4 separate regions of the Homo sapiens genome follow, and regions 1, 3 and 4 are each linked to region 2. Evidence: fine-mapped expression QTL. A gene starts in region 2. Each other region holds a variant in brackets. All regions are shown on one strand. Distances are from middle to middle.

Region 1 (8,103 bases), 430 kb after region 2:
CCCTCTTCACATGAGAGCAGCCACAGCCGGGAAGGCCTCTTGTGTGACTGGCGATAATCATGAGGATGTCTGAGGAGAGCTTTCTTTCATGTGCCATATGTCATCTCATCCTCCCTGTGCCCCTCCCTCTCTCTCACCTCCCACATAGATCTGTAGATCTGACCTTGGAAGTCTCTTGAATTGTCCATCTTGTTCCATGGCCTCAATTCAGTGCCAGCCTTCTGACCAATTTCCTGCTGTCATTATCTCCCAGTCTCACCTACCCTCCATCTTCATAAAGGATGCCCTGGTCCTGAGTCTCAGCCCCTTTAGATGCCAGGCCCTGCAGGGCCATCCCAGAGCCTTTGACGTTGCAGACCTCAGTTGCTTCCACCAGCTGTGTCCCCTGCCCTCAGTCTGGGGGTCCTCCTGTTCCGGCGGAAGCATTCCAGACCTTCCCAGGCCTGCTGACGTCTGCCTGCAGGCACAGCTCTGGGCTTTCCTTTTGAAGCCTGGTCTACCTGCCCTCTGCTCTGTATTTATTGAGTTCCCATGGGGCACCAGGCACTGAGCACAGAACAGAGCCCCTTGCCCTCGTGGAGCTTATATGGTAATGGGAAAGAAAAACACAATATAAATTATTCAGCATGTTATGTAATGAGCGCTCTGGAAAACAGCAAAACAAAAACAGTCTTGCTTGAGTGTCTTTGGGGAGGTAAGAGAGGGTGGCTTGCAGTATGAATGGATCAAGGATTGAAGGAGTGTGAGGGTGAGCCTTGTGGAGGTTGGAAAGAGCCTTCCAGGCAGAAGGGCAGCTGTGCAAAGGCCCTGAGGTGGGAGTGTGCTCAGGGTGTTTGAGAAAAGGCAGCCAGTGAGGTGGCGATGAGTGACGGAGCATGGCCAGTATGTGGGGGTGGAGCGTGGCAGAGGTGGGCCTGGAGGAGGTGTGGGGCAGGGCCTCTCAACTCTGTCTGGTTGGGAGCATTCCTTGAATTCCTAGTCCATCCAGACGGGTCCTTTTGTGTCCATGTTTAGATGTTGTGCCGATGTCATTGCTAGGAGCTTTTGAAACACTTTCACTGTGCTTACCTTGCAGACCATGCACTCAGTGGCCCGGTGCTGGGCCTTCTGGGTTTATGTCAGAAATTTCTTTGACTTTCACTCACAGTGAGATGGGGGAAGATGAGGGTTAGGAGGATCCCTTGGGGTGTGTATGGGCAAGGTGGGAGCAGGGAGCCAGGTCAGGAGGCCACTGTCCCCATCCAGGTGGGAGATGGTGGGGGTCTGGACCTGGCAGGGCTGCAGAAATCTGGGCAGTAGCCAGGTTCTGGGTATGTTTTTTTTTTTTTTTTTTTTTTTTTTTTGAGACAGAATCTTGCACTGTCACCCAGGCTGGAGTGCAGTGGCACGATCTCCGCTTACTGCAAGCTCTGCCTCCCGGGTTCACGCCATTCTCCTGCCTCAGCCTCCCAAGTAGCTGGGACTACAGGCGCCCGCCACCACGCCCGGCTAATTTTTTGTATTTTTAGTAGAGATGAGGTTTCATCATGTTAGCCAGGATGGTCTTGATCTCCTGACCCCGTGATCCGCCCACCTTGGCCTCCCAAAGTGCTGGGATTACAGGTGTGAGCCACCGCACCTGGACGATTCTGGGTATGTTTTAAAGATGACCTGACAGACCTTGCTAGAGGACTGGGCAGAGTGAGAGGGGAGCTGAGGATGACTCTGAGGGCTGGGAGCAGAGCAGCTGGAGGCAGAGCTGCCATCATCTGAGATGAGGGCGGCTGTGGGTGCAGTAGGTTAGTGGAGGGGTTGAGTTCAGGACACATCGAAGTGTCTCCTAGACACGCAAGTGGAGGTGTCAAGAAGGTCTGAGAAGTCTGGAGTTGGGGGGAGAATTCTGGGCTGCAGGCACACTTTGGAAGTTGTCAGGGCATGGACAGTGCTTATAGCCGTCAGCTGTTCGGCCTCACCTGGCGCTCATGGTTTTTTTTTTTTTTTTTTTTGAGATGGAGTCTCACTCTGTTGGCCAGGCTAGAGTGTAGTGGGGTGATCTGGGCTCACTGCAACCTCCGCCTAGCTGGCTTCAAGCTATTCTTCCTCAGCCATCTGAGTAGCTGGGATTACAGGCACATGTCACCATGCCTGGCTAATTTTTGTATTTTTAGTAGAGATGAGGTTTCATCATGTTGGCCAGGTCTTGAACCCCTGACCTCAAGTGATCTGCCCAGCTCGGCCTCCCAAAGTGCTGGGATTACAGGCGTGAGCCACCATGCCTAGCCTCTGGCACTCATGTTTACTTGGTGGTCTTGTAATTTCAGACACACCAGCTGCCCTCCCAAGGCTGGCTCCTCTTAAGGCTTACCCGTGTTGGCTGCCCTCACATGATCCTGGCATGTAGTCAGTGCTCAGGACAGTTGTGTGTGGGCAGAAGCTGCGCAGCCCAAAGGAGGACCCTCAGGCCCAGGGGGTTGAGGGATTTGCCTAAGATCACGCAGAGATGGCAGCTGGCCTGAACTGCAACCTGGTGGGGGTGAGCAGCCCACATGTTACCCGCCCCCCGGGCTCTTTCCACCATTTCCTGTTCTGTTCTGCAGAACTGGCCACAGTGTCAAAAGGCTTTGGAGAAATTACAGAAGTTCTTGGGGTAGACGGAACCTACATCAAAGGGAGGCAGATGGGGATGAGAAAAGCATTCCTGAGTCAAGGAATGGAAAGAAAGATTGCTGCTGTCCTCTCACCAAGGACACTCTAAGGCCAGGGGCCAGATCTTCTGCCTTGGCTGGCCTCTGTTGAGGGTGGGTAAGGGAAGGAAGGAATGCTCAGCTTGGTGTTCTCAGCCCCCTTGCTGAGTCTGCGGAGCCAGAGCTACAGCTGTCTTGATGCTCCCTGAGCAAGTCCCGAGTTGCCTGGTACCTTGCAGTTCTTGGTGGGAGTTTAACTGCCCAGCATTCCCGTTCTCAAAAAAAAAAAAAAAGAAAAAAAAAGAAAAAGGAAGGCAGGCAGAATAGAAATCTTCATTGCTTTCTGATTCACTCAAGTGAATCAGAACCAACTTGGGTTCTGAAACCAAAGTAAGCAGTGGTGGGCTTTGTACCAGGTGGGGGCTGCTGCCTGCAGCCGGGTCTTCTTGGCTCTCCTCATGGCCCCTCCTGTCTTGCTGACGCCGCTGGCCCTGGCTGTAGTATGCTTCAAGTCTGCTCCCAGAGAAATGACAGGGATTCCTTTGGGCTACTGGTCCTCTGGGCTGAGAGCCCCTTGTGCTGAGGCTGCTCCTCTCACACCCCACCCGGCAAGGGTTTGCCAAGTGATTACTAGAAAGGATTTGAGTTGGCTTATAAAACACATGCAATGCCACAGGATTCAATAGATACCAGAAGAAATTGGGGCAAAAGGAAAACAGAGGTGAGAAAGAAAAGCCAGGATTGTATACAGTGGCTAGAGATGGATCCAAATTTGGTTTGATACTGTGCAGCTGGGAAGGCCAGAGTGTCAAGCAGCCTGCCCAGGACTTCATGGAGCAGTGGCCGTGATCATTGTCCTGCGGCATCACCCCAACAGCTGCTGCTGCTGTCCGCCAGGCCTTCGGGCCATGCCTCCACTCTCGAGTGGCCTGGCAAGAATCTAAGGGGAAACAGGATTTCTCAGGGAGTGGAATGGCAAGGCTATCCACGGTTATCAGCCATTCATTTTTTTTTTTTTTTTTTTTTTTTTTTTGAGACGGAGTCTCGCTCTTTCGCCCAGGCTGGACTGCAGTGGCGCTATCTTGGCTCACTGCAAGCTCCGCTTCCTGGGTTCACGCCGTTCTCCTGCCTCAGCCTCCTGAGTAGCTGGGACTACAGGCGCCCGCCACTGCGCCCGGCTAATTTTTTTTTGTGTTTTTTGTAGAGATGGGGTTTCACCGTGTTAGCCATGATGGTCTTGATCTCCTGACCTCATGATCCACCCGCCTCGGCCTCCCAAAGTGCTGGAATTACAGGCGTGAGCCATCGCGCCCGGCCTCATTCTTAAACCCAATGGGGACTTGGTAGAATTTGAAAGCTTTCTTGTGCGCTGTTTCATGAGTATGTCCAGGAAGTCCCCAGGCACAGTGGGCCCTCAGAGGACTCTCTACGGAAGCTGTCTTCATAACAAGGGAACCTCAGGGGTGAACCAGAGTTGTCATGGCCTCAGCCCTGCTTGCCCAGCTCTGGGAATAGAGCTGAAGCATGCGCACACACAGACACATGTGCACTTACACCAGACATGTACACACAAAGGAGAGTGTTTTGGTAAGAAGGAGGCATCTGAAAAGGGAGTCCTACATGGGTCTACTTTTGAAAACTCAAAGATGTGGGAAAATATATTGTTAAAAAAAAGAAAAGCCAAACCCAGCCAGCGTGTCAGAAGTGCTTCTGAGGTGGACCTTGGAAGGATCCTGGGCCAGCTGAGGTCTCCTGAGAGTGTGGGAGGTGACAGAGCTCCAAGGTGCAGGGCTGAGTGATGCTGCCAGGAACTAGGAGGGCAGCAGGGCCCGCCCGGGGCTGAGAGGTGGTTGGTGGCCACCAGCCAGGTATTTCCTAGTGTCAGGCCAGGGATAGCTACCTGTGGGGAGTGTGTCTAGCCCTCAGGGCCCTTCCATTGGGTTTTGGGGATGGACCAGGAATTTGGTGGGAGATGAGACTCATTTGGCATCTTGTTTTGGTGGAACAAATGTGTTCTGTAAGTCAGGGGAGCCCTGCATCTTCGGCTGGCAGTCAGTCCCAGGGGCAGAGGCACAGCAGGGCTGTCAGCGTTAGCTTACTCTAGAGAGAGTTAATCTCTTCAGGTGGAAAATTGAGTCATGGAGGAAGCTGATCAGTAACATGAACACACCCTCAGAGGCAGCAGATTTATTGACACATCTATCCAAGTATCAGGTATAAAAGATGCTCGTTCTTGCCACAAGGGCTTGGGTTTTAAGTGGGATTTGAATGTGATTCGTGAATGGCTGGGCTGCTAAAGTCAGACAGTTGCCCA[A/G]CACAACCAGAAGGCATCTGGATCACCTCTCCTGGGCCTTTGCCTTCTCTTAGGAGGAGTCCATTTGCTTCTCACAGTTGTCTAGAAGGTAGGCAGGGCAGATGAGGTTAATAAGGAAACTGACATGAACTTGCTCCCCTAAATCCTCTCATTTGTAAGTGAAGAAGCTAGAATTAGAACTGGGATTTTGAAGAACTCTGGTTCTCTTTCCTCTACTTGACAGTTTTTGAAATTGCTTTAAAATTTTTTCTGCAAAATAGGCAAATACGGTGTACACCTATTACAATTTTAAAATTATATGGTTCATCTTATATAATGCTTTTTTCTGTATTATTATTTTTTTCTTTTTAAGATGGGATTGGCTGGGCAGGGTGGCTCACGCCTGTAATCCCAGCATGTTGGGAGGTTGAGACGGGCAGATCACCTGAGGCCAGGAGTTCGAGGCCAGCTTGGCCAATATGGTGAAACCCATCTCTACTAAAAATACAAAAAAATTAGCCGGTCATGGTGGTGGGCACCTGTAATCCCAGCTACTCAGGAGGCAGAGGTGGGAGATTCGCTTGAACCTGAGAGGCAGAGGTTGCAGTGAGCCGAGATCACTCCAGCCTGGGTGACAAGAGCGAAACTCCATCTCAAAAAAAAAAAAAAAAAAAGACAGGGTCTTGCTCTGTTGCTCAGGCTGGAGTGCAGTGGTGTGATTGTGGCTCACTGCAGCCTCTACCTCCCTGGGCTCAAGTGATGCTCTCACCTTAACCTCCTGGGTTGCTGAGACTACAGGTGCATGCCACCATACCCAGCTTTTTTTTTTTTTTTTTTTTTTTTTACTTTCTGTATTTTGTAGAGGTGGGGTTTTGCCACGTTGCCCAGGCTGATCTGGAACTCCTGGGCTCAAGCTATCCTCTGGCCTCGGCCTCTCAAAGTGTTGAGATTACAGGCATGCAGGCACAAGCCACCACACTCAGCCAGGAATACCTAATTAAACCATTATTTAATTGGGCCCCAGATCTTAAGGAGCTCCTCTGATTGTCAGAATATGGGATTGTTCTCAGAATTGAAACAGTGCTATCAAGGCTGGGCGCGGTGGCTCATGCCTATAATCCCAGCACTTTGGGAGGCCGAGGCTGGTGGATCACTTGAGGTCAGGAGTTTGAGACCAGCCTGACCAACATGGTGAAACCCCTGTCTCTACCAAAAATACAAAAAATTAGTCGGGTGTGGTGGTGGATGCTTGTAATCCCAGCTACCCAGGAAGCTGAGGCAGGAGATTGCTTGAAGCTTGGGAGGCAGAGGTTGCAGTGAGCTGAGATCGCACCACTGTACTCCAGCCTGGGCAACAGAGCAAGACTCTGTCTTTAAAAAAAAAAAAAAGAAACAGTGCTATCAAAATTGCTGATTGGGAGGCCGGCTGCAGTGGCCCATGCCTGTAATCCTAGCACTTCGAGAGGCTGAAGCAGGTGAATTGCTTGAGCTTAGGAGTTTGAGACCAGCCTGGACAACACAACAAAACCCCATCGCTACAAAAAAAAAAAAAATTAACCAGGCATGGTGGTGTGCACCTGTAGTCCCAGCTACTTTGTGGGGCTGAGGTGGGAGGAATCGCCTGAGCTCAGGAAGTCCAGGCTGCAGTGAACCAAGATTGTGCCACTGCATTCTAGCCTGGGTGACAAAGCGAGACCCTTTCTCAAAAGAAAAAAAATATTGGGGATTGGGTTATTGATTAAATGATTGACATTGGCGTGTGCCATAGAAAATGGATCAATACAATATTTACCTGTTTTTTAAGGATCCTTTGTAGTATAGGTAAACAAACTATTGTTTATAAACTGTCAATAAGTGTAGAAGGTTTCTCGATGCTTTAAGGTTGAGTTTAGCAACAGTATGATACATAGTTGTTAGTTTTTGTTTAGTGATACAAGGCAGTTCCTCATTTTGACAGTTGCCTTTTCTTTTTTCCCTAAATCACTAGCTCTCAAGCTTTTAAATCTCCCAAAATGTCCCAAATCCTGGGCCACACCTTTGCCACACTTCTCAAATGAGAATCTCTGGGAGGGCCCCAGGTACTGCGGTGGCACTGACAGCATTGTACTGGGGGCTGCTGGTTCCCTGTCAGATGTTTTAAGTCAGATTGGCTAGCATAGTCACAGCTGCTGACGGTGTCTTTATTCATGGATGCTCAGTACAGCAGTTGCTAGTTTCAAATAGACAACTTCCAGGAGGCATTAAAAAAAAATTATATGACTAGAAACAGGAGGGAAGGCATGCAGATAGATTTGTCTTCCCATGGGAAGTAGGCCATATAAGTTAAATCTCTCTCTGTATCATATCCTTTTTTACTATCTTCAGAGTCTTTTTCACTACCTGAAATTCTCTTATTTGCTTTGTTTTGTCTCCCTGCACTAAAACAAGCTGTTAGAGCAGGAGCCCCGTTCATGCCCCGTGCTGTATCCCTAGTGTCTTTAGCACAACACCTGAACCAGGAAAGGTGCTCAGAACATACTTCATGCATGAGTGCTAAATAAGCCTCTCTTCTCCTCTCTCCTCACCTGAGGGCAGGAGTTCGAGACTAGCCTTGCCAACGCAGTGAAACCCCATCTCTATTAAAAATACACACACACACACACACACACACACGCGCGTGCGCGCAAAATAGCCAGGTGTAGTGGTGCATGCCTGTAGTCCCAGCTACCTGGGAGGCTGAGGCAGGAGAATCACTTTAACCCAGGAAGTGGAGGTTGCAGTGAGCCGAGATCGTGCCATTAGACTCCAGCCTGGGTGACAAGAGTGAAACTCCCTCTCAGAAAAAAAAGAAAAGAAAAGAAAAAATACATTTGAAGTCAATTCCAGAAATATAGGAATGCCTTATATATTTGTGTGGTTTCTCGATGCTTTAAGGTTGAGTTTAGCAACAGTATGATTCATAGTTGTTGTTTTTGTTTAGTGATACAAGGCAGTTCCTCATTTTGACAGTTGCCTTTTTTCCCTAAATCACTAGCTCTCAAGCTTTTAAATCTCCCAAAATGTCCCAAATCCTGGGCCACACCTCTCCCACACCTCTCAAATTAGAATCTCTGGGAGGGCCCCAGGTGCCGCGGTGGCACTGACAGCAGTGTGCTGGGGGCTGCTGGT
Region 2 (8,103 bases):
TGGCTTTGGCCTCCGCTGCCTCCTACAGCCAGGCAAGCTGCCATCCTCTTCCACTGGGGAAAAAGGGGTGCCTTGTTTTTCTTCCCTGATAGCCAGACAGGCGAGAGCAGAGAGGCAGCTGCAAAAGCTTCCTCGGTGCCTCATACTCATGGACTCCATCTAAAAGTAACTCCTCACCCCCAACCATCATATGGCTGCTAATATTAGTGCTCATTTTTCCACTGAGGAAACAGAAACTTAGAGAGGTGGATCTGTCCAGGGTCATTTCCACAATGAGGACAGGAGGCAGGAAGCAGGCTCCATCCTAGTGATGGACACCTAAGTCCCTGTTTTTTCATTTGCACAACCATTTGAAGGAGAATCCTGTGTTTTTTGTTACACCATACTGCTCAAAAATTTCTATCAAACTATAGCAAAGATTCCTTTCCTTCCTTTAAAAAATGTTGAAGGGAAATGTCTTAGACTTGAGTATCTTGATTTATAGTCGATATACAGCAGTTTAGCCCTTGAATATGGCCAATGACGTGTTGCAGCAAGCTGAGCACTTCTATTACATGCAAAGACTCTGACTGCAAACATCCAAGTGGGCAAGGGATTATCAAGTTTAGCAATGGACTAACCAAAAACTGCATTCGTGTGGAACTGACCACAAGCTTTACATTATGCTTTTGCTCCTTTCTTGCTCATTACCCATTGTATAACAAAATATGCCCAGACTTGGGCTTTAATAAAAAATTTCTTAGCTCTCAATTTTTTGTGGTTTGATTGGTCTTAGCTAGGTGGCTCTTGCTTAGGGTCTTTCATAAAGTTGCAGTCAGGTGGTGGCTGGGGCTGCAGTCACCTGGTGGGTCAGCTTGGCTGAACACCTACCATGGCACACTCCTATGGCCTAAACCCCAAGGATAAAGAGAATGAGAGTTTTGACATCAGCCTACAAGGGATTTCAATAGTCCTTGGAGAATGGATGGCGGATGGAAGAGTGGTATTGCTATAACAGAACAAATGAAACTACAAACTAAGTGCCTGCAGTGCGGGAAACTATTGAGGAGCAAGCCACCCCACTGCAGAACCCTGGACGCGGTGATACACTGGAGCTAGCTCATTCTGGTTAATGAGAGTGGATTTTTTAAAAAATTCAAGGCCAGGTGTGGTGGCTCATGACTGCAATCCCAGCGTTTTGGAGGTCGAGGCGGGAGGATCACTTGAGCCCAGTTCGAGGCGGCAGTGAGCTATGATTGCACCACTGCACTCCAGCCTGGGCAACAGAGCAAGACTCTGTCTCTTAGAAAAGTTTTTTTTTTTCCAGTAATATTATTCTTGTATGGTGCAAACACTATATAATGCTGCGCTACTGCCCATTTTCTTTCCAGAAAGGATAAGGCACTCAATTTTCCAGACATTTCTTGAGTACCATACTTGTGCCAGGCCCTGGGAAACAGTGATCAGCAGGAGGGACGAAGAGCCCACCCTCATGGGGCTTACAGTGTACAGGGGCTGAGGTGGTGATATTTGTCAAATAACCACCCAAACACTTAATTAGAAATCGTGATAAGCCCAATGAAAGAAAAATACATGAAACAGTTTTATTTGGGAAGGGAGTGGTTTAGGGAAGACTCGAAAGTGACAATGGAGCTATCAAGTTCAAGAAGGAGTTAGTAGGGGAGGAGGCTGCAGGAAGAAGTGCACGCCTGGAGGCAGGAACAGCATGTGTCCCGGTAGTTCAGGGTGGCGGGCCCAGGCGGGTGAGAAAGGGCAATGGAGAAGGAAGGAGAGGAGACCGTGCAGACACTGCAAGTGCCAGAAACCCGATCCACACTGGCTTCAGAGGGTGGAGGGGAGGTTCTTCTTGGCTTCCATAATAGAAATGTCCAGGGACCTACCGACTTCAGATTCAGCGCAAACTCATCTGGGCCCGGTCTGTATCCCTCCCTCTCTTTTCTCTCAGCACTTTCCTCAGGCGGTTCCCCTCCTGGCATCCCAGCAGCTGCAGCATCAGCAGGAGAGAGTAAGCCTCTCCAGTCCCGGCGCAGGGATGGAGACGGTGTTTCGTGGGCTCCGATTGGCTCAGTAGCCTATCTTTGGAGCGAATCAGCGAGCGGAGAGGGATGAACTTCTCTGACTGGCCAGATCCAGTCACATGCCAACATGTGACGCGTGGAATCTACGCCAGCCACAGCAGAGAGGTGGGGGTTGTGACCGGAGTTAGATGCCAGCGCAGAAGGGACGTGAGCCCAGCCGAGGTACCGCTGAAGAGGAATCAATTTTGGTATGCAGATAATCACTGGGCTCATGGGTCTTGCTCTTTACAAAGAGGTATGTCCCTGTAAAGTTGTCAGGCAAAGGAAATGTTTCAAACGACTCCATTTCACGAAGTCTCACCTAATTTACAATTCGTTAGTTGAGATGCTTGTATTCTTCGTTTCTAAAATAAGACGTTGAACCATAAAGACTCTAGCTAGCTCTGCAACCTCTGATGAATATTTCATGCCTCATTATTGTGAAAAATCCAAAGCAGAATTGGAGAGAAGATGTGGTATAGGGATTAGGTAAGTGAAGACTGGTGCAAAGCCTCCTGGGTCGAAATTCTGTCCACTGCTTTGTCATTGGAAAAGTTATTTAACGTCGTCGTCTCAGTTCCCACAACTATTAAAATGGAGAGGATAACAACACCTACCTTATGCTCTTGTGAGGATTAAATAAGTTACCGTTAATATATGTAAAGCACTTAAAAGAGGACCATGTGTTTGCTATTATTATGTTATACATACAATAAAGAGTAAACATTACCTAAGTTATAAAGAACTTAGGCAATGGATACCAAAAGTACTAATTCCTTTATAATAAAAGAAAAAAAGGCGACAAGGCAAATAACGATAATAACTGATAATGGCTGGGCGCGATGGCTCACGCCTGTAACCCCAGGACTTTAGGAGGCGGAGGCGGGCGGATCACTTGAGGTCAGGAGTTTGAGAACAGCCTGGCCAACATGGTGAAACCCTGTCTCTACTAAAAATACAAAAAATTAGTCGGGCGTGGTGGCGCACACCTGTAATCCCAGCTACTCGGGAGGCTGAGACAGGAGAATCGCTTGAACCCGGGAGACGAAGTTTGCAGTGAGCTGAGATCGCGCCGATGCACTCTAGCCTGGACAACAGAGCGAAACTCCGTCTCAAAACAAAAAACTAACAAACGAACAAAAAACTGATCATTTATTATACACCCAGAACTGTGCTTTTAGCACAGTTTTGTTTTGTTTTGTTTTGTTTTTGAGATGGACTCTTGCTCTGTCACCCAGGCTGGAGAGCAGTGGCGCGATCTCGGCTCACTGCAACCTCTGCCTCCCGGGTTCAAGCGATTCTCCTGCCTCAGCCTCCTGAGTAGCTGGGATTACAGGCGCGCACCACCACGCCTGGCTAATTTTTTTTTTTTGTATTTTTAGTAGAGATGGGGGTTTCACCATGTTGGTCAGGCTGGTCTCGAACTCCTGACCTCGTGATCCGCCCGCCTCAGCCTCGCAAAGTGCTGGAATTACAGGCGTGAACCACCGCGTCTGGCCGTATTGTCTCATTTAATCCTCACAACAGTCTTATGGAATGGGTGCTGCTATCTTTGTTTTTCAGATGAGGAAACAAGCTCAGAGGGTTGAAATGACTTGTCCAAGGTTACAGGCCAGTGGAGGCTTGAACCCAGGTATTTGTAATTCCAAATGTCATACTCTGTCCACATTCATTCCTTGTAACCTGCCTGGGCTGTCACAGTTGGTGTGGGGCTAGCAGCTCCCCAGGGACCAAAACAGGCGCATCCCCGCCCACCGCCCCGCCCATCGTGCCAGCCCGACTCCACCCCTGTGGCTACACCCACTGCCCCGCGCCTTACCCACTGGTGGGCCACGCCCACAGCCCCCAGCTAGGTGCCTCCGCTGTCCGGGCTCTAGTCCCGCCCTCGCCCCTCCCCGCCCACCGGCCTCGCAGTCACCGCGGACGCCAATCTTGTGCATGGAGTCGCCATTTTGCTCCTAGAGAGGCCGCCAGGAGACCCGGCGCTTTCTTCCTTCTGCAGCTGAGGCTGCGGCGGGGCCGGGGCTGGGGTCGGGGCCAGGTAGGCGGGCGGGAGCCAGTGGCGAGCGGCAGCGAGGGCTGGCTGGCTCCGGCATTGCGGGGCGCAGGTGCAAGGGGCGGGGAGCCCGCGGCGCCGGCAGGCGGACGGGTCGGGGTCCCTGGGTGGTGGCTGCTTGGGGGCTCACTGGGGCGATCTCGCGCCCGCGGCCCTTCCATTTTTCCCTCCCTTCTTCCTCTCCCGCCAGGGGTCGGCGGGGGCGGGGGACGGGCGTCCGGTGCCTGGGCTCTCTCCTCTCCCTGAGGCGCCGCTGGGGAGTCGAACCCTGATGATGGGACCTGTGGTGAGCAGCCCTGAAAGCAAGCCCAGACCCAGCCATTCTCCGTCCCTAAGCTGACACGGAGCCCCTGATTTTAATTTACCTGGCTTTGCTAGTTACGAATATATCTCTCACCTCCTAAAGGATGATTTTATCCAACTCAGAACTCACCCCAGCAGAGATTGAGGGGGAACCGTGATGAAATTTTTAAGTATTCTGCTTGATGATAATAATTTTTCTCTTATGTTAATGTTGGCTCCGTTTGGGTGTTTAGCTTTTGAAAGGAGTATGAAAATGCGGAATGGGGCTTTGGGGCTTGAGGTGTGATCTCTAGTGTTTAAAAAATTTAATTGCACAAATAGAAATAATTCACCCACATTATTGAACCCCACTAAAGCATATCCTTTTTGTCCATATTCCTTTCCTGCTGCCCTCGTGTGTACCATTATTACTCAGTTGTGATTTGAGCTCGTTCCACTTAAAGTCATTCATAGATACTTTTGCGTCGTGTTGAATATTTATTGAATTTCTATTCTGTGTTTTACTTAATTACTTTATTATGGAACCTTTACACAGGTCTGGTGTACTTGTTCTTTGAAAAGTCTTATGTTGACCACCATCACTGAGCATATAGCTTTTTCCTTATTTCCTTGGGATAATTACCCGAAGTGGAAATACCGAATCAAACTTCTGTTTTCTTTCTTTGGCACTATTATATAAATTGTTTTCCAAACAAGGCATGTTTACAATAGACATTTTTCAAAATCTGGGTATTTGTCCTATTTTGCTCTCTGTATGCAGAATTCAGCGGGGTGCCAAGTCGTTTTCTGTGTGGGTTGAGAGACAGGCTGTGCAGCCCACTGTTGCATAGGACTAACTACTACAAATCATGCTGAGACCGAGCTATTTTTGCTGCTTAGAGGCTTTGCAGCCTTGAGTAAGTTTCTTCATCTGGAAACCTAGCTTCCCTGTCTAAAATGGGTCTCATTCTAGTGCTTGCTTCACTGGGTTGTCATAAGCATTGTGAACACTCAGATGTTAGGCATGAGTTAACATTGTGTTGGAGAGATAAGCAGAGCCTGGGATCATACAGGAGTGGAAGAGTAATTCGGTTTAGAATTTGCCCTTCAAATTCTCATCAATATTGATATTAAAAACAGATTTCCTTGGAGTGAGGCACATCACTAATAAACATACATAATAAGTTTTTTTATTTTTATTTTTTTTGCAGAGTCTTGCTCTGTCTCCCGGGCTGGAGAGCAGTGGCGCGATCTCAGCTCACTGCAACCTCTGCCTCCCGGGTTCAAGCGATTCTCCTGCCTCAGCCTCCTGAGTAGCTGGGATTACAGGCATGCGCCACCACGCCCGGCTAATTTTTTGTATTTTTAGTAGAGACAGGGTGTCACCACGTTTGTCAGGTTGGTCTCAAACTCCTGACCTTGTGATCTGCCTGCCTTGGCCTCCCAAAGTGCTGGGATTACAAGCGTGAGCCACCATGCCCATCCAATAAACATAAATTTTTATACTTTTTAATTTTTTGACACAGAGTCTTGCTCTGTTGCCCAGGTTGGAGTGTAGTGGCGCGATCTCAGCTCACTGCAACCTCTGCCTCCCAAGTTCAAGCGATTCTCCTGCCTCAGCTGCGCAAGTAGCTGGGGTTACAGGTGCATGCCACCACACCTGGCTCATTTTTGTATTTTTTAGTAGGGGTTTCGCCTTGTTGACCAGGCTGGTCTCGAACTCCTGACCTCAGGTGATCCGTCCACCTTGGCCTCCCAAAGTGCTGGGATTACAGGCCTGAGGCACTGCGCCTGGCCGGTTTTTATACTTTATGATGCCTTTTAGTTCATCTTTCAATTTCATTTGTTAATCATTGTGACTCATTGAAGTCAGGCATTATTCAGCAATCATTTGTTTAGCCTCTACCGTGTGGCAGCTGCACAGGGTATACAGCAGAGAATATCATGGTAAAAAATAGTCTCTGCTGCCTGGACCTTAAATTCTGATGGGGAAATCTTTTTACCAAGGTTATATCTCTTGTCTGGAAGGTAAAGGCTGAGGCCCAGCAAGGACAAGTGATGTCCACATGGCCTAGTAGCTGGAAGGCAAACCCAACTCTTCACACTCCTACTTCAGCCATCTTTAAGTAGAAGGTATTTACACAGTAGATGCTTTAGAGGGAAGACAACACACTTCAATGTGAGTCTTCCCCATCTGAAATGTGGGTGAGTGGTTTTGAAATGACTGCTAGTCTGTCCAAAGGAAATGATCTCTCAGTGTGGTTTCTTCATTCATGAGACTTAACATTCTAAAATCTTATTCAAAAGAGGAGTATGATTTGCTCTTTAAAAGGTGCTAAGATTCTCTGAAAACGGTGTGTTTTCATACATGTTATAAATAATTCTCACACATTCTAGAGTAAATTTAGAATAAACATAAAGCAGTTATAGCTCATGGGGAAAATAAGGGAGTGTTCTCATTTCACACTAAAACCTTGTGCTAACAAGCCTCCTGCCAGCCCCATCTCGATGATTATTATGTTTTTGAGGATAGTCTTTATAACTCTTTTCTTGAAGCTTGGTAAAGAACACAGCCTTAATTACCAACAGGAGAAAGGAGAACTAAAACTACAAGCAGGCATTATGGCCGGGCGCAGTGGCTCATGCCTGTAATCCCAGCACTTTAGGAGGCTGAGGCGGGTGGATTACCTGAGCTTGGGAGTTTGAGACCAGCCTGACCAACATGGAGAAACCCTGTCTCTACTAAAAATACAAAATTAGACGGGTGTGGTGGCGCATGCCTGTAATCCCAGCTACTCAGGAGGCTGAGGCAGGAGAATCGCTTGAACCGGGGAGGCGGAGGTTATAGTGAGCCGCAATCGCGCCATTGCTCTCCAGCCTGGGCAACAAGAGTGAAACTCCATCTTAAAAAAAAAAAAAAGAAAAAAAAGAAAAATAAACAGCCCTTATGTTTGAATAACTTGTGAAGTGAATAGTCACAAAACATGACTATGTTGATAGTCATTTCCAAGTGGATGCTCCCCAGTCCACTCCACCATGTCATTTTGAGGGTGGTCTTAGGTTAGGATTCTATATAGAAGCCTATATCTGAAGTCTAGAACGTCAGAGACCACATGCAGGGTGTTGCAGGCCATTTTAAACCATGAGAGATAAGGAAAGACTTCAGGAAATATCCTGGAAAAAATATACAAAGGCAGGAGAGCTATCTTGAAATAGTTTGGAGGCCATCCTGTGGAAAAGGAATTTGATGTTTCCCATAAATCTCTAAGGAGAGTACAAGAACCAGTGGGCAGAAGCTGCAGGAAGAGGAATCTCAGCATGTTCTTTTGTTTGTTTGTTTGTTTGTTTTGAGACAGTCTTGCTCTGTCACCCAGGCTGGCGTGCAGTGGTGCAGTCTCTACTCACTGCAACCTCCGCCTCCCAGGTTCAAGCGATTCACCTGCCTCAGCCTCGTGAGTAGCTGGGACTACAGGTGTGTGCCACCAGGCCTAGCTAATTTTTGCATTTTTAGTAGAAATGAGGTTTCACCATGTTGGCCAGACTGGTCTTGAACTTCTGACCTCAGGTAATCCGCCTGCCTCGCTCTCCCAATTTGCTGGGATTATAGGCATGAGCCACGGCGCCTGGCCACAGCATGTTCTAAGGAAGAATTTGGAATGATGGGCCCTCAGCGGATGTGGGCATCAGACCCTGGGGCTGTTCAAGCTT
Region 3 (8,103 bases), 110 kb before region 2:
TGTCCATGCAGGGCACAGACTGTGCATGGCTCGGGTAGAGTGTTGGCCATCCCTGCCTTGCTGGAATGTGCCTAGTTTTTAATCTCTATTTCTGGCTTGCTCTGTAGTCTTGTTGGGAAAATCCCACTGTCTCCCAGAAGGAAGTAGTCCAAGTACTGGAAAAGGAGGGAGAACAGATCATTTCATAAGGACCAAGGGTCAATATAGCAGTGGTCAGTCATTTTAGGTGAAAAACCTTTCCCCCACATTAATAACTTAAGTAGTGACCCTGATGATCACCTGAAAGAAAGTGTGTATATATGTGCATGCGCTGGTTTCTCATGAACAAAAGCTTTTTAAATTTTTTTTTCTTTTTTTTTGAGACGGAGTCTCACTCTGTCGCCTAGGCTGGAGTGCAGTGGTGCTATCTTGGCTCACTGCAAGCTCCACCTCCCGGGTTCTCACCATTCTCCTGCCTCAGCCTCCCGAGTAGCTGGGACTACAGGCACCCACCACCACGCCCAGCTAATGTTTTGTATTTTTTAGTAGAGACGGGGTTTCACCGTGTTAGCCAGGATGGTCTCGATCTCCTGACCTCATGAGCCGCCCACTTCGGCCTCCCAAAGTACTGGGATTACAAGCGTGAACCACCGCGCCCAGCCAAGCTTTTTAAAATTCAACTTCCAACAAGTGTAATACCACATGATGGGAAGGCGAGAGATGAGATATCACACTTTTTCCACACTCCCTAATGATACTAATAATAATTGTTAGCTCCTCACATGGTGTAAAAGTCTACTCATTTGACCCCGACAGCCACCTATGAGCTAGGTAGGACCATGGTCTCTACTTCATGGAAGAGGAGCAGGCTGAGACTAGCAAGTGAATTATTCAGGCATATGAAGCTGCTCCGTGGCAGAGCCCAGTTCATTCCTTGCCCTCCTACTCTGAAACCTGTGTGCTTTCCTGAGTCCCTGCTGGCTGGCCAGGCCAGGTGGCAGCAGGGGAAGGCAAAGGGGCTGGGCTGGAGCCAGCAGAGGCTCAGGTCCTCTGGTGCAGTGTCAAGTGTGACATCAGAGCCGGATGGGTGTGACACATTGTCCTCTATCTGGCCCAGCAGCGGCCGCACCTTCCAAGCTTCTCCATACTATGTGGGAAGGCAGGAAAAGCAAGTGCAGATTTAGGGTTGTGTGCTGAGGAGGTTTTATCGGGATCGTGAATAAAACAGGGCAGAAAGGAAAGATAGGGGACTGGCATGAAGCCTCCAGGCTGCTCGTAGCCTAAATACTTGAGAGGTCGCAGATGTCCTTCGCATCCTATAGCCTTCCTCGGAGAAGTGCTCTCCCCCACTGGACTCCTGTGAGTCGGTCTGATGAGGCCTATTTGCCCACCTGCCTGTTTGAGTACCACTGGCGCCATGTCCCCGCATTGGCCTATCCCATCTGGCCCATCTATCCTGCCCTGTGCCAAGGCCGCATTTTTTTTTTTTTTTTTTTTGAGACAGAGTCTTGCTCTCTCGCCCAGGCTGGAGTGCAGTGGCACATCTCCGCTCACTGCAAGCTCCGCCTCCTGGGTTCACGCAATTCTCCTGCCTCAGCCTCCCGAGTAGCTGGAACTACAGGCGCCTGCCACCACACCCGGCTAATTTTTTGTATTTTTTTTTTTAGTAGAGATGGGGTTTCACCGTGTTAGCCAGGATGGTCTCGATCTCCTGACCTCGTGATCCGCCTGCCTCAGCCTCCCAAAGTGCTGGGATTACAGGCATGAGCCACTGCGCCTGGCCTAAGGCCACATTTTTAACTGTAACATCAGATCCCAAATGGCTTCAACTTCCCCCCAAAGTCAGGTGTATGGCCCAACCTCTGAAAGGTGCAGGCCAGCAGGAGGCAGGGAGGAAGGGAGTGAGGCGCTGTCCTCTCGCACTCACTTGCTCTAGAGCACCCCTTGTCCCTCTATTCTCAGGAGGCAGCCCGTTGTCATCTTCTCAAAGAAGCTGTTTAGAAAAGGAGGTGCCGAGGGGCAACAACATACTATGGTCCACAGGTGTTTGAGGAGAACCGTGTGTGTGCAGTGTTGAGGGAGAGGGGATAAGACTCATGTCTGAAATCTAGTCTCTCTGACTCCCAAGTTTGTGGCCCTGAAATGTGAAATAAAGACTGAGTTGGGTGATTAAAACTGCTTCCTTGGCCTGGGGTGGTGGCTCACGCTGTAATCCCAGCACTTTGGGAGGCTGAGGCGGGCGGATCACTTGAGGTCAGGAGTTTAAGACCAGCCTGGCCAACGTGGCAAAACCTCGTCTCTACTAAAAATATAAAACTCAGCTGGGCATGGTGGCCCATGCCTGTAATCCCAGCTACTCGGGAGGCTGAGGCAGGAGAATCACTTTAACCCGGGAAGCAGAGGTTGCAGTGAGCCGAGATGCCACCACTGCCCTCCAGCCTGGGGGATAGAGCGAGACTCTGCCTCCAAAAAAAAAAAATGCTTCCTTGAAGAATGTCAGCCTCATAGATTAAAATCCTAATTTATTTAAATCTTTAAAAACAAGCTATTTATAATCTGTCAATTATAAATAAACAAGTTAATTACGAAAAAAAAAAAAGAGCTACTTTTAGCTTGCAGCACTTCTTAGGGTAACGTGCTCGCCTTACAGATCCAAAGAGTCTGCTTCGGGCCTCCCTTCTCTTTGCCACCCTCCTTTGTCTGGCCTTCCCGATTAATTAAATATTAATCTACTCATGCCTTTTCTCCAGATTCCTCTTCAGACAGAAGAGGTTGAGCTGTGAGAACTGATCTCATTCTTAACCTGATTCTTATTCCCCATTCTGACCCTAGTATGTGACTGCCATTGCCAACAAAACCCCAGCGATGGACTCCATTACCTTTCTCTGGTTGTGCCTGGTCTTTCAACATGGGCATTAGAAAGGCACACAATATTGCAAACCTTTTGATTTTATCTAGGGTAATAATACTTAGTAACAGTAACAATAGCAGCAACAACTGATCTCATATATTTAATGCAATCCTAGAAGGTAGTTATCATTTTTATTACCCACCTTTATCTTCTCCATCCTCATAACTAGGATGGAGACACTGAGGCTCAGAGAGGACAGGTTGCCTGCTCGAGACCATATAGCTCCTAAGTACCAGAGTCAATGTTTGAACCGAGTCTTACCTGCAGTAGGAGAATTATCTCAGCATGACTTTGAAACTCTTTCTGTGAGCTGCCCAATATGTTTTGCCTGGGCCCTTTGACTACAGTGAGATTTCTGGTTAGTATTGTGAAGCAGTTAAATAACTTAAATTTACATTAAACATTTCTGGTTTTACTTTGATGATGACTTAAGAAAATGAATATAAACATATTTAGCATCATTGGGATAGCCAGTTTGTAACTGAACAGATATAAACATAAGAAGTTTGCATCTTATTTTATATTCATGAATATTCAGAAGCCATATATAACAACAATAATTAAAGTGCAATACCAGTAATAGTCCACATATTACTTAAATTTGACTAACAGTATTCTTGTTGTTCTAGAAATGAGATGACCAGCTCTTTCAGAATATACAGCAACTGCCTCCACATAAAGCAGTGCCAGGTTTAGGAGATTTACGGTAAAGCCATGTTTCCAAGGAGGTCTGTACAAAAAGCCAGACTTCTGCTGGCAGTTACTGAGAGAGATAGGCTTTCCATCCATGGCAGCCATTTACTTTTGCTCTGGGAGACGTTTGTAATAGAAAAGGCACAACTGGGGTATTTATTCATTCCCCCCGTTCCTCTAGTGTTTGGTGGCGTTGCCGTTGCAAGTGCGCAGGGCTAAAATGGACTGGTTATCTTAGGATCATGGAAAACCTGGAATCAAGGCTCAAGAATGCCCCCTATTTTCGTTGTGAGAAGGGAACCGATTCCA[T/A]CCCTCTATGCCGGAAGTGTGAGACGTGTGTCTTAGCCTGGAAGATCTTCTCTACCAAAGAGTGGTTCTGCAGGATCAATGACATATCACAGAGGAGGTTTCTAGTTGGCATTCTGAAGCAGTTAAATAGCTTATATTTGTTACACTATTTCCAAAATATCCTTCAGACCACACAGGGAAAGGATTTCATCTATAACAGGTCCCGGATCAACCTCAGCAAGAAAGAGGGGAAAGTTGTGAAGTCCTCCTTGAACCAAATGTTGGATAAAACAGTAGAACAGAAGATGAAAGAGATCTTGTACTGGTTTGCGAACAGCACCCAGTGGACCAAGGCGAATTATACTCTCTTACTGCTGCAGATGTGCAACCCCAAATTACTGCTCACTGCTGCCAATGTGATCAGAGTCCTGTTTCTGAGAGAGGAGAACAATATCTCAGGTAAACAAGGCCACAGGCAGAGACTAGAGGGCCCCCGAAGACCAGAAGGCAAGGCTTCAGAAATCTGTAAGGAACTGCAGTTGTAGACAACATAGGTAGACAGAGATTGCACAGAACTCAGCATAGGTTTTTTGAACTGACACCTTGTCCTGACACCCGATCCTGTTTACCAAAGGAGAAATGACTGAGTGTAACTTCCTTCTTGAAAATGATCAATGCAGGAGGAAGTACACAACTTTTAACTCACAAGCATTTATCATGGATTTCTGCATCTCATAGGCCCAGAAATGGCTGGTCCCTGCCCCTGACCCCTTAATGCTGGTGTCGTTCCTGCTTTAGGGATTGGACTGAGCTCGAGAGGGTTGTAAAGGGGAAGCTTTTGTTTTTCTCTTCAGCTGCCCTGCACAGAAACCAGACCAAGAAGTCAAAACTTAGGGCTTTTTTTTTTTTTTTCATTCACTCTACCATGCTCCTTGCTTATCCATGAAATGAAACCTTAAAGTAGAGTTTCTCCAAGGCTGGAGATAGCTTAAGGGCCAAATAAGTCTAGGGTGGTAGTTCTCCAGCTGTGGCTTGTATCAGGATCTCCAGCAGGACCTGTTAAAACAAGCTCCTCCCCCAGAACTTCGGACTCAGCAGGTCTGAGGTGGGCCCAGGATTCTGTATGTCTTTTCTTTTTTTTTTGAGATGGAGTCTCGCTCTGTCACCCAGGCTGGAGTGCAGTGGTGCGATCTTGGCTCACTGAAACCTCCACCTGCTGGGTTCAAGCAATTCTCCTGCCTCAGCCTCCCAAGTAGCTGGGACTACAGGTGCGTGCCACCATGTCCTAATTTTTTTGTATTTTTTAGTAGAGATGGGGTTTCACCATGCTGGCCAGGCTGGTCTCGGACTCCTGACCTCGTGATCCGCCTGCCTCGGCCTCCCAAAGTGCTGGGATTACAGGCGTGAGCCACTGCACTCGACCAGGGATTCTGTATTTCTAACAAGTTTCCAGCTAGTGCTGATGTTGCTGGTCTGGGGATCTGTCTTTGAGAATCACAGGCCTAGGGTGTTGGAGAATCTTGGAAGTGTTTGGCCAGATAGTTCAGGGAAGCAGAAGAAACAATAAGGGTGGTGTCTGTTTTGCTTTGCTATAAAGGAATACCTGAGGCTAAGTAATTTATAAGGAAATTTCTAAGGAAAAGAGTTTTATTTGGCTCACAGTTCTGAAGACTGTACCAGAAGCATGGCACCAGCATCTCTTTCTGGTGAGGGCTTCAGGAAGCTTCCACTTATGGTGGAATGCAAGGGAAATCAATGTATCATGAGGCAAGAGAAGTAGCAAGAGAAGGGGAGGGGTGTCAGTTTCTTTTAAACAGCCAGCTCTTGCTCGAACTATATTAATAGAGCGAGAACTCACTCATTACTGTGGGAAGGGCACCAAGCTATTCATGAGGAATCTGCCCCCATGACCCAAAAACCTCCCATCAAGCCTTACTTCCAGCACTGGGGGTCACATTTCAACATGAGATTTGGAGGGGACAAATATCCAAACTGTATCAGGAGGCAAGAGAATTGAGCTTTGGAGGGGTCCAGGAGTGGAAGGTCCAACATGGGGAAGCTCAGATTTAAGCAGAGGTGGGAGAAAGCTGGGAGGGGGTGGTCACATGGAGGCGTTTTGGAGTTTTAGCTCTTGAAGGTGTGTAATTCCTGTCACCAGTGCGACCTGACAGGTGGTCATATTTGTAGACTAGTGGAATCCAAAAGAATTTTAAAGCTGGATGGCCTAGGACACAATTAGATCACAATATATGTCACTTGATTTATTTGGTGTGTCAGGGGTATAGAAGAATGATAATATAGAATGAAGACACAGTGAATCCTAGGGTGTCAAAAACAGTAAGTTAGACTGGAGATCAACCGACTTAATATCCTTAATATTTACATAAGGAGACCAAAGTCCAGGGCATCTGACTTTGCTTAGGTCACCCACCACGTGGGCTGAAAACCAGGATCCCCTCCTGGGCCCCTTCCACTCTGGAGTGAGTGCTGCCAGCAGCGGAAGGCCTGGCTTGTACACACAGATGCAATGCTCCACAGTGCTCTTCCAAAACTTCATCCCATTCACCATAGGAATGGGCTATTTACACTGGAGTTGTGTTAAGTCCTATTACAGGTTGTGGCAACCTTCTTTTTTTTTTTTTTTTTTTTGAGACAGAGTCTCACTCTGTTGCCCAGGCTGGAGTGCAGTGGCCTGATCTTGGCTCACTGCTGCAAGCTCCGCCTCCCGGGTTCACGCCATTCTCCTGCCTCAGCCTCCCGAGTAGCTGGGACTACAGGTGCCCGCCACCACGCCCGGCTAATTTTTTTTGTATTTCTAATAGAGACGGGGTTTCACCGTGTTAGCCCGGATGGTCTCCATCTCCTGACCTTGTGATCCGCCTGCCTCAGCCTCCCAGAGTGCTGGGATTACAGGCATGAACCATCACGCCGGGCCAACAACCTTCTCTTTTCTTAGAGCAGATTCTCTCTTAAAAAATTAAATGTTCTGGTTGGGCGCAGTGGCTCACGCTTGTAATCCCAGCACATTTGGAGGCCGAGGCGGGTGGATCACCTGGAGTCAGGAGTTCGAGACGAGCCTGGCCAACATGGCGAAACCCCATCTCTACTAAAAATACAAAAAATAGCCAGGTGTCATGCACTTGTAATCCCAGCTACTTGGGAGGCTGAGGCAGGAGAATCACTTGAACCCAGGAGGCGGAGGTTGCAGTGAGCCAAGACCGAGCCATTGCACTCCACCCTGGGCAATAAGAGCAAAACTCAGTCTCAAAAACCAAAAACAAACAAACCAAAAAAAAGTTAAATGTTCTATTTTGACTCGAGGGTGGTTATTTCTATCATTGAAGAAAATTCAGCTTGAGCTTCCGAAGAGCATTCCCTGTTGCAATTCCTGACCTCGACTCTCTCTCTCTCTGCTTGTATAAACAACTCGAGAAATTTTACAATGGGGGCGTGCTGAAAAGCTAACAGGAAGCTTTCTGAGATTTTTGCATAGAAGTTTGGAGGCCCCAAATAAAAACAGACATAACTGCTCTGGTCCATTCTGTACATCTTTAAAAGAAGGAAGAAAAAATGAAAAAGTTTCTCTCCACCTCATTTTCCTCAACACACCCGCTTCAAGAGCAACCTTGTCTTGGTCTTCTGTGTTTCAGGGCTCAATCAAGACATCACAGATGTGTGTTTTTCCCCTGAGAAAGACCACAGCTCCAAGTCTGCGACCTCACAAGTCTATTGGACAGCCAAAACTCAGCACACATCCCTTCCTTTGTCCAAAGCCCCAGAAAATGAACACTTGCTTGGGGCAGCATCTAACCCTGGTAAGTGAACTTTCAGCAAGAAAGCCAATATGGGCTAGGTGCGGTGGCTCATGCCTGTAATCCCAGCACTTTGGGAGGCCGAGGCAAGCAGATCATGAGGTCAGGAGATCGAGACCATCCTGGCTAACACGGTGAAACCCCGTCTCTACTAAAAATACAAAAAAATTAGCCAGGCGCAGTGGCAGGCACCTGTAGTCCCAGCTACTGAGGCAGCAGAAGGGCGTGAAGCCGGGAGGCAGAGCTTGCAGTGAGCCGAGATCATGCCACTGCACTCCAGCCTGGGCAACAGAGCGAGACTGTCTCAAAAAAAAAAAAAAAAAAAAAAAAGAAAGCCAATATGCAACCAATGTGAGATTGGGAAGACCCAGTGGAACTGGAGGGGCTGGCAGGGTGATAGCATCTGGGGATGGCAGATTT
Region 4 (8,103 bases), 25 kb after region 2:
TCACTGCAACCACTGTCTCCTGGGTTCAAGCGATTTTTGTACCTTAGCTTCTCTAGTAGCTGGGACTACAGGTGCCTGCCACCACACTCAGCTAATTTTTGTATTTTTAGTAGAGATGGGGTTTTGCCATGTTGGCCAGGCTGGTCTCGAACTCCTGACCTCAAGTGATCCACCTGCTTTGGGCTCCTAAAATTCTGGGATTACAGACACAAGCCACCATAGCCAGCCTGAATGTATATGATTTTAGAAGGTATGTATCACGGAGCATTTGCACAGAGTGAATAGAATAAAAGTCCCCATATCACTGCATTTTAAGACAGGTACTTACTGTAGAATAAACCTTTTTTTTTGTTTGTTTTTTGAGACGGAGTCTTGCTCTGTTGCCCAGTCTGGAGTGCAATGACGTGATCTTGGCTCACTGCAACCTCCACCACCCGGGTTCAAGCAATTCTCCTGCCTCAGCCCCCAGAGTAGCTGGGATTGCAGGCACACACCAACATGCCCAACTAATTATTATTATTTTTATTTTTTATTTTTGAGTCTCACCTGTCATCCAGGCTGGAGTGCAGTAGCGTGATCTCGGCTCACCGCAACCTCCACTTCCTGGGTTTAAGCGATTCACCTGCCTCAGCCTCCTGAGTAGCTGGGATTACTGGCGCCCACCACCACGCCTGGCTAATTTTTGTATTTTTAGTAGAGACGAGGTTTCACCATGTTGGCCATGCTTGTCTCGAACTCTTGACCTCAGGTGATCCACCTTCCTCAGCCTCCCAAAGTGTTGGGATTACAGGCGTGAGCCACCACGCCCAGCCCAGAATAAACTTTCTAAGATAGTTTTTCAGTAAAGGCAAACGTAAAACAAACATTTAAAAACTAGGCAGGGTGTGGTGGCTCACGCCTGTAATCCCAGCACTTTGGGAGAACCAGGGGGCGATCACCTGAGGTTGGGAGTTCAGAGCAGCCTAACCAACATGGAAAAACCCCGTCTCTACTAACAATACAAAATTAGCCGGGTGTGGTGACACATGCCTGTAATCCCAGCTACTCGGGAGTCTGAGGCAGGAGAATTGCTTGAACCCGGGAGGTGGAGGTTGTGGTGAACCAAGATCATGCCGTTGCACTCCAGCCTGGGCAACAAGAGCAAAACTCCGTCTCAAAAAAATAAAAATAAAATTAAAAACTCAACCCGAAGCAACCTCAGGAGCCTACCCCATTGTAAACACTATGACAGGCAGCTGGTGAGGAGAGCAGGCTTGCCTGCTGAATCTTCAGGAAAGGGCCCATCTTCTCTACCAGCCTTGCTTGATGGGCCTCCAGACTTACTTTCCTGTTCTTTTGGGCAAGTAATGCTTTAAACAATTTTTCATACTGAATTTTCCTTACACTTTTCTGGTGATCGTTACAAAGGTGGTGAAGGTTTTCTGTTTTCTCCAATTTCCAGGCTGGTGCAGTTTGTCTTGATATCTTTTTTTTTCCCCATGGGTCTCAGTCCTCTTGCCCGGGCTGGGGTGCAGTGGTGTGATCACTGCTCACTACCAGGAGGTAGCCTTGACCTCCTGGGTTCAAGTGATCCTCCGACCTTAGCTTCCAGAGTAACTAGGGACTACAGGCATGCATCACCATACCTGACTAGTTTTTTGTATTTTTAGTAGAAATGGAGTCTCACCATGTGGCCCAGGCCATTTTCAAACACCTGGGCTCAAGTGATACTCCTGCCTCGGCCTCCCAAAGTGCTGGGTTTACAGGCATGAGCCACCACACCCGGCTGACTTGTTATCTTAAGACTGGACTTTGCCATGCCTGTTAAACTTCAAGAAGATTTGATCTGCTCTAATATAATTTTTAAAGACTCTTCTGTATTACTGTTATCTTTGCTATATTATGACTATTTTTTATTTATTTATTTTTTCGAGATGGAGTCTCGCTCTGTCGCCCAGGCTGGAGTGCAGTGGCATGATCTCAGCTCACTGCAACCTCCACCTCCTGGATTCAAGTGATTCTCCTGCCTCAGCCTCCCTAGAAGCTGAGATTACAGGCACATGCCACCACACTTGGCTAATTTTTGTATTTTTAGTAGAGACGGGGTTTCACCGTGTTGGCCAGGCTGGTCTTGAACTCCTGACCTCAGGTGATCCGCCTGCCTCAGCCTTCCAAAGTGCTGGGATTACAGCTGTGAGCCATCGCACCTGACCAAGACTTTAAATTGATGTGAAAATCAGGCATCTCACAGTACTAAAAAAAAAAAAATTTTTTTTGAAAAATACAAGTGCTGAGTTTTTTTGATGGTAGAACAATTTTGTCTTTTTTTTTTTGAGACCAAGTCTCCCCCTTTCACCCAGGTCGGAGTGAAGTGGTGCGATCTCGGCTCACTGCAACCTCCGCCCCCCCAGGTTCAAGCGAATTCTCCTGCCTCAGCCTCCCGAGTAGCTGGGATTATGGGCACGTGCCACCATGCCTGGCTAATTTTTGTGTTTTTAGTAGAGATGAGGTTTCGCCATGTTGGCCAGGCTGGTCTCCAACTCCTGACCTCAGGTGATCCACCCGCCTCGGCCTCCCAAAGTGCTGGGATTACAGGCGTGAGCCACCGTGTCCGGCCTTATTTTTTATTTTTTTGAGGCAAGATCTCACTCTGTCACCCAGACTGGAATGCAGTGGCTCAATCTCAGCTCACTTGCAGCCTTGACCTTCTGCACTGAAGCGATTCTCCCACCTTAGCCTCCTGAGTATCTGGGACTACAGATGTGCGCCACCATGCCTGGCTAATTTTTGTTTTGTAGAGGCGGGGTTTTGCCATGTTCCCCAGGCTGATCTCAAACTCCTGAGCTCAAGCAGTTTGTCAGCCTTGGCCTTCAAAGTGCTAGGATTACAGGCGTGAGCCACTGTGCCCGGCCATGAGAGCAATTTTTTTTTTTTTTTTGAGACGGAGTCTTGCTCTGTCACCCAGGCTGGAGTGCAGTGGCATGATCTTGGCTCACTGCAACCTCTGCCTCCCGGATTCAAGCTATTCTTCTGCCTCAGCCTCCCAAGTAGCTGGGACTACAGGCACACGCCACCACGCCCAGCTAATTTTTGTATTTTTAGTAAAGATGGGGTTTCATCATATTGGTCAGGCTGGCGTTGAACTCCTGACCTTGTGATCCACCCACCTCGCCCTCCCAAAGTGCTGGGATTACAGGCGTGAGCCACAGTGCCCGGCTGGAGAGCAATTTTTTAATAGTAACTTATTGTATATAGTATTTTATGTAGTACCTATTTTATACAGTGCAACTTGTTTTTAAACTGTTTATAGGCTGGGTGCAGTGGCTCATGCCTGTATTCCCAGCACTTTGGGAGGCTGAGGCAGGAGGATTACTTGAGGTCAGGAGTTCGAGACCAACCTGGCCAATATGATGAAACCCCTTCTCTACTAAAAATACAGAATTATCTGGGCGTGGTGGCATGCACCTGTATTCCCAGCTACTTTCAAGGCTGAGGTGAGAGGATTGCTTCAGCCTAGGAGTTCAAGGCTGCAGTTAGCTATGGTCATGCCACTGCACTCCAGCCTGGGTGACAGAATGGGATCCCATCTTAAAAAAAAAAAACAAAAACAAAACTATTTATTGCTTGTGTCTGCTTTATTTTCAAAGGTCTAACTCATCTTATTACTATGGATTTACACCAGAAGGAAATTCAGGGCTTCTTCAATATTCCTGTTGACAATTTAAGAGCATCTCCCTTCTTATTACAGTATATTCAAGAAGAGGTGAGCTAGCTCAAACTTTTTTATTTTAACATTCTGATTAAGGTTGAAAGATGTATTTCCATTTCCTTAGGATACCCCTAAAGGATTAAAACTTGATGTATTGTACTTAAAGTACCATTATACTTTATAGCTATAATCCAACGCATTTTAGAATTCTGAATCTGCAGTTTGTTTCTTTAGATAAGCTCTTAAAATTGCTTTTTCTTTTGGACCTCAAGTACCTAGAATTGGACTAGATATGATTGTAATGAGTAATTTACTCTCATTACTAGTCTATGCTTGATCCTGGTTCTGTTTTATGTATCCATCTATCCATCCTGTCTCTCTGTCCATCCAGTTATAATAGCCAGCATCCATGATCCCACCTCCCAGCAAGAAAACTAGAGTCATCATCATAACTTAGAGCTGCTCATGGGCTCCTTCTCTGTCCTATCCCCCTGCCTCCTTCCACCCTAGGGAACCACTGTCCTGAAGCGGTGCTGAATCTGTCAGATGCTTTTTCTGTATCAGTGGAGATGATCATTTTTTTTCCTTCATTCTGTTAATGTGGTTTATTACCACCCTTGAATCCTGGGATAAATCAGATGTTTAATTTTAATATAGCTACATTTGTTTTTCTTTGATATGAGTTAGCATTTTTGTGACTTACTATTTAAGAAAGCTTTTAAAATGTTAATTTATACTGTACTTAGCTATTTTGCTTTTAGCTGTTTTTCTTT[C/CT]TTTTTTTTTTTTTTTGGTGGGGGGTGTGATGGAGTCACTCCCAGGCTGGAGTGTAATGGCGCAATCTCAGCCCACTGAAACCTCCACCTCCCGGGTTCAAGCAATTCTCGAGTAGCTGGGATTACAGGCATGCGCCAACACAGCTGGCTAATTTTTTGTATCTTTAGTAGAGATGGGGTTTCACCATGTTGGCCAGGCTGATCTCGAACGCTGACCTCGTGATCTGCCTGCCTCGGCCTCCCAAAGTGCTGGGATTACAGGCATGAGCCACCGCACCTGGCCTTAGCGGTTTTTCTTATATAAATTATTTCTCTCTTTAATAACTTTTCTAGATAACTTCTTTTTACAGTACTGTATTTAAAAGAAGATAACTTCTTTTTACAGTACTGTATTTAAAAGATGGCAGTTTATAGGTTTCTGAGGAACTTCTTTCTGGTAAGAATACAGGGCTTCCCCATTCTCCAGCAATTGTTATAAGTCCTTATAGAGAAAATGAATTTAAGTATTTTTGAAAGAGAAAAATGTAAAATATTCTGCTTTTTTTTTTTCTTTAAAGTTACACACAAGAAACATAAAAACTCTACGCCAGGCGCAGTGGCTCACGCCTATAATCCCAGCACTTTGGGAGTCTGAGGCGGGTGGATCACTTGAGGTCAGGAGTTCAGACCAGCCTAGCCAACATGGTGAAACCCCATCTCTACTAAAAATACATAATTAGCTGGATGTGGTGGCGCGTGCCTGTAATCCCAGTTACTTGGGAGGCTGAGGCAGGAGAATTGCTTGAACCTGGGAGGTGGAGGTTACAGTGAGCCAGGATTGTGCCACGGCACTCCTGCCTGGGTGACAGAGCGAGACTATCTCAAAAAAACAAAAAAGAAAACAAAAATACTCTAACAAATTAAAAAAATAATAGAGACTTTAATTTTACCTGAAAAATTTTATGTTTTTTTTTTGAGACAGGGTCTTTCTCTGTCACCCAGGTTGGAGTGCTGTAGTGCCATGATAGCTCACTGCAACCTTGAACTCCTGGGCTCAAGAGATTTCTCCCACCTCAGCCTTCTGAGTAGCTGAGACTAGAGGTGTGCCACCACACCTAGCTAATTTTTAAAAAATATTTCCAGAGTCAGAATCTTGCTGTGTTACCCAGGCTGGTCTCAAACTCCTGGCCTCAAGCGATCCTCCTGCCTCAGCCTCCCAAAACAGTGTGATTACAGGTGTGAGCCACTGTGCCTGGCCTAATTTTACCTGAATATTATTCTTAGTTGAGAGAGAAGGTGAGATAAAATTGGCAAATGTCTTGATAGGGAAGGATGAAGAGGTTTAGGCAGAGAGAGAGTGAGAGGGTGAGCATTGAACGTGGTTCAGTTAGCAACCAGCCGCATGGAGAAACCTGTCATTTTGGAAGAAATAGAGCAGTCGCTATAGACTTATGTGGGTTGCTGTCGACATCTTGTTGTTTTAGGGGATGTTTCCATTCAGGACACAGGCATGTTGTGTGCCAATGTCTCAAGGCACAAATGGCAATTGCACCTCTTAAGGGATGCCCGGTGGGTGAGCCTAAAGAACGAAGGCTGGGGCACCCTTGTGCTGGTTGCAAGGTCAGGCTGGAAGCCTAACGCTAGTCATTGCCTGTAGTGCAGGCTTCTACCTGAGGATGACACTGCCTTCTACTTGAAAAAATCCCCATTTTAGTTTCATTGTTGAGAAGAAGTCAGGGCTGAGTGTGGTGGCCCACACCTATAATCCCAGCACTTTGAGAGGCTGAGGAGGTTGGATCAGTTGAGTCCAGGAGTTTAAGACCATCCTCGGCAATATGGCAAAACCCTGTCTCTACAAAAAATATAAAAATTAACCAGGTGTGGTGGTGCATTCCTGTGGTCCCCCCTACTCAAGAGGATGAGAAGTGGGAGGATTGCTTGAGCCTGGGAGGTTGAAGTTGCCCAGGTGGTCGAGGCTGCATCAAGCCGTGATCTGGGCGACAGAGTGAGATTCCTTCTCACAAAAAAAAAAAAAAAAAAAAAAAAAATTAATATGTGGGAACTCAGTGTTAAAAAGGAATTTTTGTGTATTGCTTTTTTCTTTTTTTTGGAGACAGTCTCTCTCTGTCACTCAGGCTGGAGTGCGATTTTGGCTTACTGCAGCCTCCGCCTCCTGGGTTCAAGCAAGCATATCTGGCTAATTTTTGTTTTTTGTTTTTTTTTGAGATGGAGTTTCGCTCTTGTTGCCCAGGCTGGAGTGCAATGGCATGATCTCGGCTCACAGCAACCTCCCCCTCCCAGGTTCAAGTGATTGTCCTGCCTCAGCCTCCCGAGTAGCTGGGGTTACAGGCATGTGCCACCACACCCGGCTAATTTTGTATTTTTAGTAGAGACAGGGTTTCTCCTTGTTGGTCAGGCTGGTCTCGAACTCCTGACCTCAGGTGATCTGCCCACCTTGGCCTCCCAAAGTGCTGGGATTACAGGTGTGAACCACCGCACTTGGCCTAATTTTTGTGTTTTTAGTAGAGATAGGGTTTCACCGTGTTGGCCAGGCTGGTCTTGAACTTCTGAACTCCAGTGATCTGCCTGCCTCAGCTTCCCAAAGTCCTGGTATTACAGGCATGAGCTACTACACCTGGCCTGTATTGCCTTTTTATAGTATACGTATCTTGTCTCTTTTGTTTTCGTGTGTTAGAGCCTCTTAAAGCAGGGGATAGATATTCATGTTTCACTGAATCTAAGGTGCTGTCAGTCCAGGCTTACATTATTTTACGTCACCAAGAAAGAAGAAAACACTGCTAATTATACTGTGGCACTGTGCCTTCTTGTCACTTAGTGATCCTATTCTGCAGGTTTTGATGCTGACGCTTTCTCCATCTCTTGTGTTTGTCACTGGAATTTAAGCACCTTCTGCCAGAGTCAGAAGGAACATTCTGGTACTAGGATGCTCGTTGCCTTGAAATTTTTGCCATCTATACTTTTTTTTTTTTTTGAGACGGAGTCTCACTCTGTCGCCCAGGCTGGAGTGCAGTGGCGCAATCTCAGCTTACTGCAAGCTCCGCCTCCCGGGTTCACGCCATTCTCCTAGGCCTCAGCCTCCCCAGTAGCTGGGACTACAGGCACCTACCACCACGCCTGGCTAATTTTTTTGTAGTTTTAGTAGAGATGGGGTTTCACCGTGTTAACCAGGATGGTCTCAATCTCCTGACCTAATGATCTGCCCGCCTCAGCCTCCCAAAGTGCTGGGATTACAGGTGTGAGCCACCGCGCCCAGCCAACTTTTGCCATCTCTTCTGAGGGCGTCTGACAGTGTCTGTTGCCTTCCGCTGCACTGCTGGGGATGTGTCAGGCAGTCCTTTTCACAGTTTGACCTACTGGTAGGGATCTTCCTTTCTTAAGTTTCATAAAGCATTTGATTGTTGCCTTGCAAGAAAATGTGGAATTGTATCATTTTTCCAGTGATGAATATTTGATTCATGAATATCAAATTATACTCTGATGGTCTCTTCCTGTGTCTTTCTGCATACATGATAATTTTTCTTTTCTTCTTTTTTTTTTTTTTTTTTTTTTTTGAGACGGAGTTTTGCTCTTGTTGCCCAGGCTGGAGTGCAGTGGCGCAATCTCAGCTCATCACAACCTCCGCCTCCCAGGTTCAAGCGATTC

Evidence for each region. PIP is the estimated chance that this variant, and not a neighbour inherited with it, causes the effect.
Region 1: its variant is fine-mapped to the expression of PRPSAP2 in whole blood (TOPMed, PIP above 0.99).
Region 3: its variant is fine-mapped to the expression of PRPSAP2 in gastroesophageal junction (GTEx, PIP 0.98).
Region 4: its variant is fine-mapped to the expression of PRPSAP2 in skeletal muscle (FUSION, PIP 0.95).

The regions. Positions count from the first base shown.
Region 1 is chr17:19,287,760-19,295,862 of GRCh38, forward strand. The region is part of intron 4 of EPN2 (epsin 2); the gene reads left to right. Among named protein-coding and RNA genes, the nearest start is that of EPN2-AS1, 14 kb to the right of the region's middle. RefSeq lists an enhancer at 1,861-2,454. The variant A/G (reference allele first, on the strand shown) is at 4,978.
Region 2 is chr17:18,854,164-18,862,266 of GRCh38, forward strand. PRPSAP2 (phosphoribosyl pyrophosphate synthetase associated protein 2) reads left to right here and starts at 3,968. Exons shown (of 12, transcript NM_002767.4): 1 at 3,968-4,098. RefSeq lists enhancers at 1,819-2,319, 1,838-1,887, 1,908-1,967, 3,747-4,319 and a silencer at 4,066-4,425.
Region 3 is chr17:18,740,420-18,748,522 of GRCh38, forward strand. It overlaps FBXW10 (F-box and WD repeat domain containing 10), which reads left to right and starts at 3,635. Exons shown (of 14, transcript NM_001267585.2): 1 at 3,635-4,330; 2 at 7,522-7,686. The coding sequence starts at 3,826. RefSeq lists an enhancer at 6,197-6,491. The variant T/A (reference allele first, on the strand shown) is at 3,893.
Region 4 is chr17:18,878,942-18,887,044 of GRCh38, forward strand. It overlaps PRPSAP2 (phosphoribosyl pyrophosphate synthetase associated protein 2), which reads left to right. Exons shown (of 12, transcript NM_002767.4): 7 at 3,627-3,742. Among named protein-coding and RNA genes, the nearest start is that of PRPSAP2, 25 kb to the left of the region's middle. The variant C/CT (reference allele first, on the strand shown) is at 4,462.